2 separate regions of the Homo sapiens genome follow, and region 1 is linked to region 2. Evidence: fine-mapped expression QTL. Tissue or cell type: whole blood. Region 2 holds a variant in brackets; the other region holds the start of a gene. All regions are shown on one strand. Distances are from middle to middle.

What was found. PIP is the estimated chance that this variant, and not a neighbour inherited with it, causes the effect.
Region 1: it holds the start of ZNF84, and the variant in region 2 is fine-mapped to the expression of ZNF84 in whole blood (INTERVAL, PIP 0.96).

What each region holds. Positions count from the first base shown.
Region 1 is chr12:133,034,086-133,042,190 of GRCh38, forward strand. ZNF84 (zinc finger protein 84) reads left to right here and starts at 3,424. Exons shown (of 5, transcript NM_001289971.2): 1 at 3,424-3,460; 2 at 7,193-7,397. The coding sequence starts at 7,383. ZNF84-DT (ZNF84 divergent transcript) reads right to left here and starts at 3,137. Exons shown (of 3, transcript NR_110091.1): 1 at 2,684-3,137; 2 at 1-18. It also overlaps the pseudogene PTP4A1P2. RefSeq lists an enhancer at 3,041-3,130 and a silencer at 3,351-3,530.
Region 2 is chr12:132,992,240-133,000,344 of GRCh38, forward strand. The region is part of intron 1 of ZNF26 (zinc finger protein 26); the gene reads left to right. It also overlaps the pseudogene RNU4ATAC12P. Among named protein-coding and RNA genes, the nearest start is that of ZNF26, 9.9 kb to the left of the region's middle. The variant TTTTTG/T (reference allele first, on the strand shown) is at 4,653.

The DNA.
Region 1 (8,105 bases), 42 kb after region 2:
CAGCCACTCTCCCAATAGCTGGAAAAATGCAAACAAAAAAAGAAATCCCTCTATAAAATCAATAAAATGTTTAAGAAAAGAAAAAAATGAGATAAAATTGTATCCAAGATGACAATGGGATCTTTATATATATATATATATATATATATCATTGTGAAGTGACTGACACAATCAAGCCAGTGAATGTATCCATCACCTCACATAGTTACCCTTTAGGTATGTGTGATTAGGGTATTTCAGGCTTACTCTAAGTGAATTTCAAGCGTACAACATATTATTAACTGTCGTCACCATGCTGTCCATTAGGTCTCCAGAATTTATTCATGTTATAACTGCAAGTTTGTTCTCTTTTTAAAACATTTGACCAACATCTCCTCATTTCCCCTACTTGCCACCTGACCTCTGGTAACCACTCTTCCACTGTTTCTATGAGTTCGACTTTTTAAGATTCCACATCTACGTGAGATCGTGTAGTATCTTCTTTCTGTATCCGTGTATTTCTATGTGTATTTCACTTTGCATAATGTCCTCCAGGCTCATCCATGTTGTAGTAAATCACAGAATTTTCTCCTTTTTTGAGGCCAAGTAATATTCTATTGTGTACGTATACTACATTTTCTTTATCTTTTGATAGATGCTTAGGTTGTTTCTACATCTTCACTATTGTGAATAATGCTGCAATGAACAGGGGAGTGCAGATATCGCTGAGATATCTTTTAATTTTATTTATTTTGGATATATACTGCTATGATTTGAATGTCTATGCCCTCTGAAAATTACGTTGCAACTAACCCCCATTGTAACAGTGTTAGGAGAGTGGGAAAGCTGCCTATGGCAATTGAGAGGTGGGACCTTTGGGAGGTAACTAGGATTAGATGAGCTCATGAGGGTGGGCATTAGTGGCTTTATAGGAAGAGAAAGAGAGAAATGGGCTCGGCTGCTTGATCCCCCTTCACAGTGTGCACCCTGGACTGACCTGGGGCTCTGCAGAGAGTCCTGCTAGCAAGGAAGTCCTTACCAGAAGTGTCCCTCAACCTTGGACTTCCCAGTCTCCAGAACTGTAAGAAATAAATTCATTTTCTTTATAAATTATTCAGTGTCAGGTATTCAGTTACAGCAATAGAAAATAAACTAAGACAGAAAATTGGTACTGAGGAGTGGGGCTGTTGCTAATAATAAATCCTGAAAATGTGGAAGTGGCTTTGGAACTGGGTAATGGGCAGAGTTTGGAAGAGTCTGGAGGAGCAGGTTAGAAAAGGCCTAGATTCTGGTGAGGGATTGTCTCAAAAAAAAAAAAAAAGAAGAAGAAGAAGTTGTGAAACCATGCCCCCAAATAGTTAAAGAAACCAGTGACTAACGAATTTTTTTTTTTTGAGATGGAGTCTCGCTCTTGTCGCCCAGGCTGGAGTGCAGTGGCGCGATGTCGGCTCGCTGCAATCTCCACCTCCCAGGTTCAAGCGATTCTCCTGCCTCAGCCTCCCGAGGAGCTGGGATTACAGGTGTGCACCACCACGCCCAGCTAATTTTTGTATTTTTAGTAGAGACAGGGTTTCACCATGTTGGCCAGGCTGGTCTCGAACTCCTGACCTCAGGTGATCTGCCCGCCTCGGCCTCCCAAAGTGCTAGGATTATAGGCGTGAGCCACCGCGTCCGGCTAACAGAAATTCTTGAGCTTACAGGATGGCAGATAAGAAACAGTTTGCTGAAACTCCGTTTGTAATATAATACAACTGGCTGAAATCAGTTGAAACCAATATAACCAAACGGAGTCCATGCAGAATGAGCTTGCTGATGTCGCAGCCTGAATTTCCACTGCACTTTTCACACTAACTCTACCTTAATTTGCACATGGGACCCAAGAAGAGGCTTGAAGAGACAACTGCACATGGTCGGGGACTTTCCAGACTTCCTTTTTCCTTCACCATTCACCTGTGAATCCCAGAATCCACCCTCTAAACCTTTTTTCACAATAGTGCTGCCTTAAGGGCAGCACAGAGAGATAGATTTGAACTAAACTCCTGTCACTTTGTTGGTCAACTCGCAATTAAGCTTTTCTTTTCTCAAACGCCTGGTGCCATAGTATTGGCTTCTGTGCACATCGGGCAATGAGGTCTTTTGCGTAGCAGTATTTGGATATCCGGTTTCCTCACGCTATTTATTGAAGCGACTGTCCTTTCCCCATCGTGTATTCTTGACACAAGATTAGTTGACTTGCCTAAGATTAGTTGACTGTATATGCATGGGGTTATTTCTGGTTTTTCTACGCTGTTCCACATTGGTCCATGCGTCTGTTTTTATGCTAGTACTTCACTGGTGAGTTCTACCTCTGGGAATAAATATAAGAATTCTCTAATCACTGGATGTTTGAAGCAATTCACTAAGCAACTCATTATGATGCTTTCTGGCAAAGGATCTCTGAATTTGTCTTCAAATTGTGGATAAAATTGGGTCAAATTTGGCCCATGTTGTCCTGGAGAATCATTTGTGTCACAAATTATCAAATTTATTAGTATAGAGCGGATTTTCATTCAATTTCCTATGTGTCTATGGTTATTTCTCTTTTTTCATCTCTCTCCTCCATCTCCCCGGCCCCATCTTGCTGTCATAAGCATCGTGACTTACCTATAATTCTCCCTACGACTCCAGTTATGGATCAACTTTACTTTTTTCTGTTAATTCTTACCTTCTTTCCATAAATATATTTAAATTTTTTCTGGTTTCCTCAACTGAAGTCAAACCAATTGAGTATTGGTGGGCCGGGCGCGGTGGCTCACGCCTGTAATCCTAGCACTTTGGGAGGCCAAGGCGGGCGGATTGCCTGAGCTCAGGAGTTCGCGACCAGCCTGGGCAACACGGTGACTCCCCGTCTCTACTAAAATACAAAAAAATTAGCCGGGCGTGGCGGCGGGCGCCTGTAGTCCCAGCTACTCGGGAGGCTGAGGCAGAAGAATGGCGTCAACCCGGGAGGCGGAGTTTGCAGTGAGCCGAGATCACGCCACTGCACTCCAGCCTGGGTGACAGAGCGAGACGCCGTCTCAAGAAAATATATATATATATTGGTGGATTCGGTTTCCCTTTATGTTTCTCAGAAAACCGTGTGAGCCCGTTTGGAGTCACTCCGTCTCCAAGCGACAGGCACTTCCGGACGCGGGGCACTGTGGGAAGTTGAGTTCGCGGGGCTCCTTCCTTCGCGCATGCGCACATGCACTCTTGGTAATGCTTGCAGGTGGCCCGTTCTTCCTCTTTGTCCTTCGCTGCCACGTGAGAGGGGAGTGTACGCGTGTGCGCGCGTGCGAGTGTGCGCGTGTGCAGTCCCCGACTCGTCCCGGCCCGTTCGGAGCCGCCCGGGAGCGCACAAAGGCCGACGGTTTGGGCGCGTGCGCGGGACACGGGGGACGGGCGGTGTCACGTGATCGCGAGGCCGCGGGCGCGCGGGCGCGACTCGGCGGCGGCGTCTTTTGTGAGTTCAGTGAGTTTATTGCGGGCCCGGCGCTGGGGGCTCCGGGAATGGCGGGGGAGGCGCGCGGGAGTGGCCGCGGGGAGCTTCGGCTTCAAGGCCCTGGGCGTCCGCGCGCGGATGCGGGTCTGGGGCGGGTTGGGGCTGGGCCGGGTCGTGAAGATGCCGTGGGCCGCGGAGCTGCGCGGATTCTGGGCTGTGGGGCGGGCACGGCCTTTCCGGAGGCGCCGCTCCTGGGCGTCCTTTCAGGCGGGCGTGGAGGCGCCAGCCTCGGGCGCGTTTAGCCTCGGGCGCGTTTAGCCTCGACCTCGGGCCAGCCCGCTTGCCGCGCCGTGGCCCTAAGGAGCGGCTGCCCTGCTGGACCGCATCCACCAGCAGCCTGGCTCTGCCGCTATCGAAGGAGGCTTTTAAAGCGCTGGGGTTACAGGTGTGAGCCACCATTCCTGGCCGTGTATTTTTTAATGGTTATATTTATTGACTGTTTTAAATTTTTTAAGTGACTTTTGCTTTTGGTATGGTGTAGCGAAATCTCCCCTCAAATTATACATATATTCATTCACCTGTGGTTTTTTTTTGTAGACATTCTTAGGGTTTCCATTATTTTAAAATTTAACCCACTGAAAGTAGTTGTATGAAATAGCTACGTTTATTTTCTTTCAAATATTCTTGTATTCATTAAATAATTTAATTTTACTGATGGCTTTGAAATGCTACATTTATTGCATGCTGACTCTTGCATATTTAGACAGTTTGCTTTTTTTCATCTGTATAACTTCTCTGGAGCCAGTGTCAAATGTTATAATGATTATAATTTGTATGTATTACAGTGGGCCTGTTCACACTCATTATTTTGTATTTCCAAAAGCATCCAGGCCCGGTGTGGTAGGGCATGCCTGTAGCCCCAGCTACTCTGTAGGTTGAGGTAGGAGGATCACTTGAGCCCAGGAGTTCAGGGCTGCAGTGAGCTATGGTTATGCCATTGCACTTCAGCCTGGACAACACAGTAAGACCCTGTCAAAAAAAAAAAAAAAGTGTCCGAATTGTTCTTGAACCTTTTTTCTTACACATAAACTTTAGAATTTTGAGATTCTGATTGGAGTCGATGAGTTATATAAATCATTTGAGGTCAAATTATCTTCACAATCTGAAGTCTTCCTATCCCAGAATAAAATCGAATTATAAATTTCTTTAATTCTATTTTTATAGTTCTCATTGGTGTTTTTAGTATGCTTCATATGGGTCTTGATATTCCTACATATTTTATGTATTTTGTCAATTATGAGTCGGATTTTATTTTTTTGTTATTTTATGTGAGTTGTTTATATCTTACAGAAATAAGGTTATTGACCTGGAAAGATGTTCTTCACATAATGGGAAAAAAACAAAAACAGCTTTTAAATATGACCATATGCTTCCATTGTATGAAAAATATCACAATAGTTTCCATCATCCTAAGAATGGTTACCTGTGGTGAGATCATAGATAATAGTTCTTATTTAGCTTGTGTATGTTTTTTATATTTTGCCATCATATATTACTTTTATAATAATAATTATAGCTAGTATATGTTTCGTATGACTGTGTGCCAGCTTTTGTTCTAAGATTTATGTATTATCACAATTTAAGGTATAAAGGAGTCATTTCTTGTATAACTGGGAGAAACTGCTGTGTGTTTCTGAGTTGGCACTGAAGTTTGAACCACAAAAAGGCATGAAAAAGAAAGTGCTGCTTGTTAGTGTGATACAGTTGAGGCAGGGCGTCCTTCATTTATATTTTTGTGGGAATTAGTGACTGAATGTGTGCATGGGAATAGGAGCTGACTCCAGGATTTATGTTGTGTGTGTTTGTGCATGTAGATATGCACAAATGACAATATGACTTTAGTATTCATGCTTTGAACATAGCAGGATAGAGAATTAACATTTGAATTTTGCTACTTACTAAATGTGCAATCACAGGCACATTTTACAATCACTCATTGTCCCAGTTTTCTCTCTGTAAAATGGAGATTATGTTAAACGCCTTATAGGGTTGTGCATGAGTTAAATTTAAAATGCTTAGTATATTGTCTCACATACAGAAAGCACTGGAATGTTAGCTGTAACTGTTATTACAAGGCCCCAGTCGCTTTCCTTTTAACACCTCATTTGTTTCTTAGACTCCCATTGTGAGGTCCACTTTATCTTCACCATTTTAGCAAGTACAGAAATTGAGGCTTTGAAGGCAAGAAAGGAGGGGGGAAAAACAGTAACCACAATAAACATTAAATGTATTCAATTTGTCAGTTAAAAGACACACTGTTGGTTTGGATTTTTTTTTTTTTTTTGAGATGGAGTTTCCCTTTTGTTGCACCAGGCTGGAGTACAATGGCACGGGCTGCAACATCCACCTCCCAGGTTCAAGCAACTCTTCTGCCTCAGCCTCCCAAGTAGCTGAGCTTACAGGTGCATGCCACCACGCCTGGTTTATTTTTGTATTTTTAGTAGAGATGGGGTTTCATCATGTTGGTCAGGCTGGTTGAACTCCTGACCTCAGGTGATCCATCTGCCTTGGCCTCCCAAAGTGCTGGAATTACAGGCGTAAGCCATCGCTCCTGGCCAATTTGGATTTTTTTTTTTTTAAACACCAATAAATTTGAGCTCTGAGCTGCTTATAAGGGACAAAGATAATGATGCTAAGATTTTTAGTGTAGTTGACCAGATGATAACATACCACGTAAATACCAAAAGAATGCTGAAGCCAGGTGTGGTGTTGTATGCCTATAATCCTAGCACTCTGGGAGGCTGAGGTGGGAGAATTGCTTGAGCCCAGGAGTTTGAGACTATCCTGGGCAGCATAGCGAGATCCTGTCTCTACAAAGAAAAAAAATACAAAAACAGTTAGCTGGGCATGGAGGCACACAAACCTGTAGTTCCAGCTACGTGGGAGGCTGAGGCAGGAGGATCCCTTGAGCCTGGAGTTCAAAGTTGCAGTGAGCTCTGATTGTGCCACTGCATGCCAGCCTGGGTTAGGGAGCAAGACCGTACCAAAAAAAAAAAAAAAAAAAAAGAATGCTGATGTTGCAGACTTCATCTAAGATAAAATAGATTTTAAGGCAAAAAGCATTATTGGGGGTATGAAGCGTTGTTACACAATGATTTTTTAAAACCCCTATTTAACCTTGACGCATCAAACAACATAGCCATAAGCATATAATCCAAACATCAGCAGAATTATAAGGAAAAACTGACCAATCTCTAGTCATATTGTGAGATTTTAACCCATTTCCTTCTGAAATGGGTAGACAAAAATGGCAGACAAAAGTTAAGGATATATTAATAGAAGATTTTAATAGGAAATTAGGCTCAGAATGGTGAAATTTGTTTGTTTTTGCCAAAAGTCATCTAGCTGGTAAAGGAAAAAGTTGATTGAAACTCAAATCTGTTTTAATACAGATCATATAAACTGTGTTTTTCCTAACAGCACCTGTTAAACTGATTTGCATTTCAGCATTCACAGTGAATATTGAGTGAATCTCACAATTACTTTATTTCTGATATTTCCTTATCTGTTTGCAGAGACCTAGGCTTCCACTGTTCCATTTTACTATATTCTGTTTCCCTGAGAGTGCTGTTTCAGTTATATAGCAAGCGTACCTCTGGCCTTAGATGATCGTGAATTCCAAGTTCCTAGCAAGAGAGAAAGAGATTTCATGTGCAATGTGAATATACCAGTTGAAGTACATTTCTCCCGAAGTCCACAGATCCTGGTCCCTACAAATAAGCCTGCTCATGTGAGATAAGAAAGGAGTTCCTGGAACCAGGAATTCATTCTCAGTGTAGAAGACCTAGCTGAGACCTCACTCCACAGTTTTGGGGCAGAAGCAGAAGAGACGCACAGTAGAACCGATCTCAGCCTTGCTGATCATCTCGTACAGCAGCAGAAAATGACCATGTTACAGGTGAGTTGATTGTTGAGTTCTTATTTTTTCCCAGGGAATTAGAAGAAATGTATAAGCCTTCCGGTGAAAAAGAAAAGTTTAAATAGTTAAGAAATCAGAGGAAAATAGCCTCAGATGATCAGGATTGGAACAAAATTGGCACAGTGATATATTAACTACTGGACCATGACAGGTTCTTAGGATTGAGTATTTATAGCATATTTAAAGCCATAACATCTTACATAATTACTGCATTTGAGCTGCAAACTTTGTTTTCAAATTTTTGGTAGTCGTAATAGAGAAATGTGAGCTTTTATATGCTTTGCATCGTTTAAAGGTAAAAGCAAACTGATTGCCCATAGGAAGTAAATATTTCTTGGTTATCGGGTGTCCATTTCTTTTTCCTTGATGAAGTCTTATGAATGAGAGATATGCAGTAGTTCCTCCTTATCTGCAGTTTTGCTTTTTGCAGTTTCAATTTTCCAATTTCCCATGGTTTGAAAATATTAAATAGAAAATTTCAGAAATAAGCAATTGGTAAGTTTTAAATTGCTTCCTGTTCTGAGTAGCATGATGAACTCTTGCACCATCCCACCCAGGACCTGCCTCATCCCTTGGTCCAGCAGATCCATGCTGTATATGCTGCTTACCTGTCAGTCACTTAGTAGCCATCTGAGGTGTCAGATCAGCTCATGGTATTGCAGTGCTTGTATTTTAGTAGCCCTTATT
Region 2 (8,105 bases):
AGTTTTTGTTTGAGAAAGACTTTTTTTTACTTTTGAAGGATAATTTTGCAGGGTACAGAATTCTGTTTTGATGATTTTTTTTTCTCTAAACACCTTAACTGTTTCACTCCATTTTCTTGCTTGTGTGGTTTCTGTAGGTAAGGTATTTTTTTTCATCTCTGGCTTATCTTTGATTTTTTGTGTTTTAAAAATGATATGCCTACGTGCAGGTTTTTTGGCATTTATCTTCTTGGTATTCTCGGATTTTCCTCCATCTGTGATTTGGTGTCTGACATTACTTCAGCGAAATTTTCAGTAATTATTGTTTCATATATAGATGCTCCTTGACTTGATGATGTGGTTACATCCTGATAAACTCATCATAAATTGAAAATCTCTTTGTCAGAAGTGCATTTTCGACTTACAATATGTTCAACTTATAATAGGTTTATCCAGATGGAGCCTCATCATAAGTTGGGGAACGTACTGAAGTGTATTGCTTCTGCGCCATTGTAAAATTGAAAAATACTAAGTCAAACCACTGTGCGTCAGGCACCGACTGTCTTTCTTCTGTTCTTTTCCTTTCCTTCGGGTATTTCCATTGTGCATATCTACACCTTTTGTGGCTGTCCATCTTGGATATTCTGTTCTTTTTTTTTTTCCCCAGTGTTCTCTTTGCTTGAAGGTTTCTGTTGATACATCCTTAAGTTCAAAGATTTTTTTCCTCAATCTCGTGCAGTCTACATAATACATAAGCCCATCAAAGGCATTCTTCACTTCTGTACAGTGTTTTTGATCACTAGTATTTCTTTTTTTTTTTTTTTGAGATGGAGTCTCACTTTCTTGCCCAGGCTGGAGTGCAGTGGTGCGATCTGGGCTCACTGCAGCCTCTACCTCTCAGGTTCAAGCCATTCTTGTGCCTCAGCCTCCTGAGTAGCTGGGACTACAGGTGCGCACCACCGTGCCTAGCTAATTTTTGTATTTTTAGTAGAGACAGAGTTTCAGTATGTTGGTTAGGCTGGTTTCGAACTTCTGACCTCAAGTGATCTACCCACCTCAGCCTCTCAAAGTGCTGGGATTACAGGTGTGAGCCACTACGCCTGGCCTGCCCATCTGTTCTTACATGCTGCCTACTTTATTCACTAGAGCCCATAACATATTATTCATGGTTGTTTTAAGTTTTGTCTGATACCTTCAACATCCCTATCATGTCTGGTTCTGATGCTTGCCCTGTCTGTGTTTTTGTTTTTGTTTTTATTTTTTTTTTTGAGATGGAGTCCAGGCTGGAGTGCAGTGGTGTGATCTTGGCTCACTACAACCTCCGCCTGTTGGGTTCAAGTGATTCTTCTGCCTCAGCCTCCCGAGTAGCTGGGACTACAGGTGCACTCCACCATGCCCGGCTGATTTTTGTATTTTTAGTAGAGACGGGGTTTCACCATACTGGCCAGGCTGATCTCGAATTCCTGACCTCAGGTGATCTACCCCCCTCGGCCTCCCAGAGTGCTGGGATTACAGGCGTGAGCCACGGCGCGTGGTTGCCCTATGTTTTTTTGCCTTTTAGTATTGCCTTGTCCCTTTACATTCATAGCTAGACATGATGTACTGAGTAAAAGGAATTACTTTTAATAGTACTTTACTAATGTGGTGATGAGATGTCAGGAAAGGGTGAGCATTCTGTAGGCCCCTGATTAGGTCTGTCTCTTTGTGAGCCTGTTCTCCTGGACTCTCAACCTCACAAGTATTTCCCAGGCCACCCCCACCCCATCTCTTAGATGGGACAGGGTGGAATTTGGTATATCTCTCTTCCCTCAGGTTAGTTAAGCTCTGACAAAACCCCAATATATTAGGCTCTGGGAACCTGGTTGAGCTCCTGAAAGTAAAACTCAGAAAAGCTTGGGACTTTGTCTCCCTCCACTCCCACCATGACTGGGTCCCCCTGGACTTTTTAACTTCAAACATGTACACACCTAGCCTCTAGCAATTTGTCAGTTGCAGTTCAGGTATTTCTGTCCTGACGCTTTCTCACAGAGATTTGTGATCTGGTAACTACTGTGTTTCTGCCTGTCTCTAATTTTGGGGACAGTGGTTTGTTTGCCTTGTATCTTCACTTCTCTTTCAGATCTAAGAAGAGTTGTTGATTTTTCAGTTTGTTAAACTTTTTACTTGTTAGGACAGAGTGGCTACTTCCAAACTCTTTACATGCAGAACTGGAACTATTAATTTTTGATGATACAGTTGATTCTCTTAGAACACAATTCAGTCTCTTATAACCACCCACCCATCCCAATCCCCTCTCTCTCCTCGGAGGTAATCAGTTTGATAGATATTCTTCTAGGTCTTTCCCTGTACATTTTTAATGCATATGTTTATATCCTTAAAATGTTTGTGTTGGCTTATTTTTGTGAAGTTGTATGATATTCTGTTGTATGAACATTTCATAATTTGTCTGTTGTAATAATCTGTTATCAACATCAGTGTTTAGGTTGTTTTCAGTTACTGGTTATTTTAGATAACACGACTTTGAACCTTTTTGTACATTTGTTTTGGTAGACATCAACTATCATTTCTGTTAGGCACATACCAGGATTTTTCAACCTCAGCACTATTGACATTTTGGATGGAATAATTCTTTGTTGTGGAGGAACGTCCTGTGCATCGTGGGTTGCTGAGCAGCATTCCTGGCCCCGACTTATGTAGGTGCCAGTAGCACTGCCCCACTATGACAACCATAAAGGGCTCCAGACATTGTCAAATGCCCCCGGGGGGGCAAAATCTCCCTCCTGCCCATTGAGAACCACTGGGCACATACTTACGAATGATACTGTTGAGTCATTGTATACGTATATTTAAATTTAGTACATACTCTTAGTTTTCCAAAGTGGCGAAATGACTTCACATTCCCAGTACCAGGAATTGAGAACTGCATTTGCTCTATATCCCTTTTTATTTTCATGGAAAAGAGGTTTTCCACTTTTCAAAAAATTGCACCACCATAGTTGATGTGGGTGTGTTGTGTAGGCGTTAGCAGTATTGCCCTCACCATGCGCTCACTGGACAGTAACACAACCCCACGAGAAGGATGGTTTGCTCCACATCCTTAACAGACTTGTATTGGCCATTGTCCCGTTGATGCTCATTTCAGGGATCAGTTGTTTGTTTCTAAATGTCTCCTTGTTTTTTTTTTTTTTTAATTCCAGTTCTCCTTTTATTCACTGTATACAACTTCTCTGTATTTTAAATATTTACATAGTTATATATTATGATAGTTATTTGTAATATTACTTGTTTGCTAACATCATCTGGATCATCTGTGCATCTTTATCAATTATCTGCCTATTCCTTTTGTCAGTCATATTTTCCTGCCTCATGTCTCAAAGTTTTTAATTTTTTGCTGACATTGTTTTAAAAGGAATAACCACAGAGACTGAAGTTTACTGTTGTGGTTTTTTTTGAGACAGAGTCTTGCTCTGTCGCCCAGGCTGGAGTGCAGTGGCGCGATCTTGGCTCACTGCAACCTCCGCCTCCTGGGTTCAAGCAATTCTTCTGCCTCAGCCTACCCAGTAGCTGGGATTACAGTTGCCCACCACCATGCCTGGATAATTTTTGTATATTTAGTAGAGACGGGATTTCACCATGTTGGTCAGGCTGGTCTCAAACTCCTGGCCTCAGGTGATCCACCCACCTTGGCCTCCCAAAGTGCTGGGATTACAGGGGTGAGCCACCATACCTGACCTTACTGTTGTTTTATATCAGAGGATATTTCCCCTTTTCTCTGTCATGCAGTAGGGGAATGGCTGATCACCTCAATCAAAACAGGAATTGAGCTGTTTAGGGGCTGTACTCTGTTACCTGTGTCTTCGGGTTTCTGGATGGTATATTTATTGCAGGCTCCTCTCTACTGGTACTTTGTTTCTGGAGCACCTTGAGGCTGCGGGAGACTCAGTCTGCCATTCCAGCCCAGCCTGCAGCTTCTTGCACTGACCAGCACTCAACAGATGTCCCATGGGGAAAACTCACTGTCCACTGGGGCACATCAAAACCTTCACTGGTTTCTCTTTCCCCTAGAATAGTCCTCTGTCTGGGCCGAGCCCTTCCTTCACTGTTCTCAAGCTGAGCAAATGGCCCAGCGAGGTAACAGCCAGCAATTTTAGCTCACCCAAGAGGAGCTCTTTTCTCTCGCAATTTTAGTTTGTTTAGTCCTCCTTCCTTCCACAGGTCTCTGGTGTTTTAAAAAAGATAAGAGTATTTAGAATTTTCTAGTTGTAGCAGTAGTAGTCCAAGCATATGATTTTATTTTACATTATTGAGAGTTAGAATTATTAGGTGAAATAAAATGAAAAACTTTCTTGGTATTTTCATTGAGAATTTATCAAATGTGCAAATTAATTTGTGGAAAATTAATATCTTTGCCATGTAAGTCTACTCATCATAAACATGGCATGTTGCTTCAATCTCTTTGTACTTACATATTTTATCATGTGTATTTTTTGTTAGGTTTTCCTGCGTTTTAAAGCTTTTTATTCCTAAGTACTTTCTAGATTTGTTACTGTGATCATATAGGCATTTTCTTACTATATTTTCTGGTTGGTGACTGCTAATGTGCCAAAAAGCTATTCCTTATTGTTTTGTTTAAAACTGCTACCCTGTTGACTTTTCTTACTGGTTCTCATGGT[TTTTTG/T]TTTTGTTTTGTTTTGTTTTGTTTTCTTAGAAAGAAACATTTAATAGGGACTTAAGAACAGAAGCCATGTCTGTGTCTCATGCAGTGGCAAGACAAGGTGGTGGATCCCTGCACCATTACCCCCAGACCCAGTGCTTCTAGACCGTAGGGAGGGGTGGTTCAGAAGGGATGTGTAAGACAGTTGAAGTACAGTTACATCAAGGTTGTTTGACCTAAGGGTAGGATTTATGGTAAGTACCTGGTCTGACACAAGGAACAATAGATGAACTGGAAATCTTAGAGGCCTTCCCAGAACAGGGGCTAATCAGAAGCCCACACGGTAGATGAACTTCCAAGATGGAGTCCAGAACAGGGGTTAATCAGAAGCTCACATGGTAGATTAGTTTCCAAGATGGAGTCCAGAACAGGGGTTAATCAGAAGCCCACATGGTCGATGAGCTTCCAAGATGGAGTCCAGAACAGGGGTTAATCAGAAACCCACATGGTAGATTAGCTTCCAAGATGGAGTCCAGAACAGGGGTTAATCAGAAGCCCACATGGTCGATGAGCTTCCAAGATAGAGTCCAGAACAGGGGTTAATCAGAAGCCCACATGGTCGATGAGCTTCCAAGATGGAGTTGCTTTGGCCTTCACACTTCACCTCCCAGTCCAGCTTTTCTATCTTATGCGCCCTCCCCTGAACGTTAGGTAGGGTGCCTGATATTGCAGAGCTTTAGCAGCAGTGCAGTGGAAAACAGATTAGGCCAAGGAGGGTTCCAAATTAAGGAGGTTCACAGGGTTGTTGAATCATTTCTAGTCTTCAGAATACTATGACTTTGCTTGTCTCAGATGAAGTAAAACAATGAGAGATACATAACAATAATTTGAATAATAGAAATAGAATGCACACAAGGATTACAAACGAAAGAGAACTTTTGATTGTGCCAGAACAACACCAGCAAATAACCTGTTCCGTTAATGGGCCGACTAAAAGTATCATGAAGAAAACGAAAACCTGGTTCCTTTTTAGGGACTTCTTGTAGCCAGGAAATAATTCAGTTAGCCCAAATTATAGGCAAATAATAAAAACTCAGAACAGCAATCAGAATCTAAAATTTTCTCTCTCTGGTGTCCCTACTTCTACCAAGAATAAATCGTAGCAGGACCAACTTATTTGCAAATAAATTTTGATCTCATTATACTTGGCCTGGTTATTTGCATAAAGAATAGCAAGAATAGTGACCAGCCATGTAGGCTTCTTTTAAGTTGACTTTGCTGGAGCTTTTTTTTTTTTTTCTTTTTTCTTTTTGAGACGGAGTCTTGCTCTGTCGCCCAGGCTGGAGTGCAGTGGTGTGATCTTGGCTCACTGCAACCTTCGCCTCCCGGGTTCAAGCGATTATCCTGCCTCAGCCTCCTGAGTAGCTGGGATTACAGGTGTGTTCCAGCACGCCTGGCTAATTTTTGTATTTTTAGTAGACATAGGGTTTCACCATGTTGGTCAGGCTGGTCTCAAACTTCTGACCTCATGATCTGCCCTCCTCAGCCTCCCAAAGTGCTGGGATTACAGGCATAAGCCACTGCTCTCGGCCTTGCTGGAACTTTTTAAAGGAATTTTGGATTCGACTTTTTAAAAGCTTAGAAGGCCAGAAGCCAAGCCAAGGATTTGCTGCTCGACTGTGCTTGTAACACCTGTATGAATTCCTGTCTTCTCGAGATCCCAAAATACCATGAGGTTCCTGAGCCTGTTAAAAAGTGACATTCTTTACTTGCCACAGATCAGGAATCTTTAAGGTGGACAAGGTACCAGGCGAGTCTTTCCAAGGGGCTTTTTATCAGCTCTATAAATCCAACCTAAATTTCTCAAAGCAGCCTGGTTATATCTGAAAATATGCCATTCCATTTGAGGCCTTGATAAAATAACCAGTCTCTCAATTGTGTCCTTTTTACAAAAGAAAACAGATTCTTGCTGAACTTATGCAAATAACTCTATTGCCATAAAATCAGAATACTCATGAATAGTTTCCAAATTTTGGAGAAATCAGGTAGAGAGAAAGGTAAATTTTGCTCACAAAACATACTTTACCCAATTGCCCTAAGCTATAAATAACTCAGAAAGATTCTTGACTCTTCTTTAATCAGAGCAGCAGTCTTCCAAACAGGATGTCATTTGTTCACCTTGGAACTGCCATCCACAAATCAAGCAGCTCTTTGTCAGTCAGGTGAGAGCTGTTTATCAGGGACTGTCGAATCCAACAGCTGTTTACACAGTTCCAGAGTCAGTGGAACAGAAGCCATGTCTGTGTCTCAGGCAGCTGCAAGACAAGATGGTGGATCTCCACCAGTTCTCATTTTATCTCAGCCGATTCTCTTAGTTTTTTTGTTTGTTTGTTTGTTTGAGATGGAGTTTTGCTCTTTGTTGCCCAGGCTTGAGTGCAGTGGCACGATCTCAGCTCACTGCCAACCTCCGCCTCCCGGGTTCAAGTGATTCTCCTGCCTCAGCCTCCTGAGTAGCTGGGATACAGGCGCCCACCACCACACCTGGCTGATTTTTTTGTGTTTTTAGTAGAGGTGGGGTTTCACTGTGTTAGTCAGGATGGTCTCGATCTCTTGACCTCATTATTTGCCTGCCTCAGCCTCCCAGAGTGCTGGGATTACAGGCGTGAGCCACCGCACCCAGCCGCCATGTGTTTTTAAAGAAAATGATTTTAGTGGTTTACACAAAGTATAATATTTTCTATAGGTTTAAGGAAGAAACACTTTATTGTGTCAAGGAAATTCCTTGTACTTTGCTTTAACTTCTAAGTTTTGAAAGTGTTGAAAAAAAAATTTTTTTTTGAGGGGGAGTCTCGCCCTTGTTGCCCAGGCTGGAGTGCAATTTTGTGATCTCAGCTCACTACAACCTCCACCTCCTGGGTTCAAGTGATTCTCCTGCCTCAGCCTCCCGTCACCATGCCCGGTTAATTTTTTTGTATTTAGTAGAGACAGGGTTTCACCATGTTGGTCAGGCTGGTCTCAAACTCCTGACCTCAAATGATCTGCCCACCTCAGCCTCTGAAAGTGCTGGGATTACAGGTGTGAGCCACTGCACCTGGCCTCCTAGGTTCTCTTTTTGTGTGTCACCAGTATTATGCCTTTACCTCATTTTTCTCATAAATCCTATGGCTTTTTATGCAACTTTGCATGGTGTGATTTTTTGCAGCATATATGTCCCATTACAGTAGAACTGTTTATCATAATCTCTTGTGAAATTTTAAATCTCTTAAGAGTTTTGGACTGCTTCTTGGTCATAAAATTTTCTTTTTAAATTTTCTTTTGATCATGCTAGGTCAATTCAAAATTTTAACAGTTATTTTGTATTTTACTTTTATTCTTTTATTTATTTATTTATTTATTTTGAGTTAGAGTCTTGCTCTGTTGCCCAGGCTGGAGTGTAGTGGCACGTTCTCGCTCACTGCAGCCTTCACCTCCT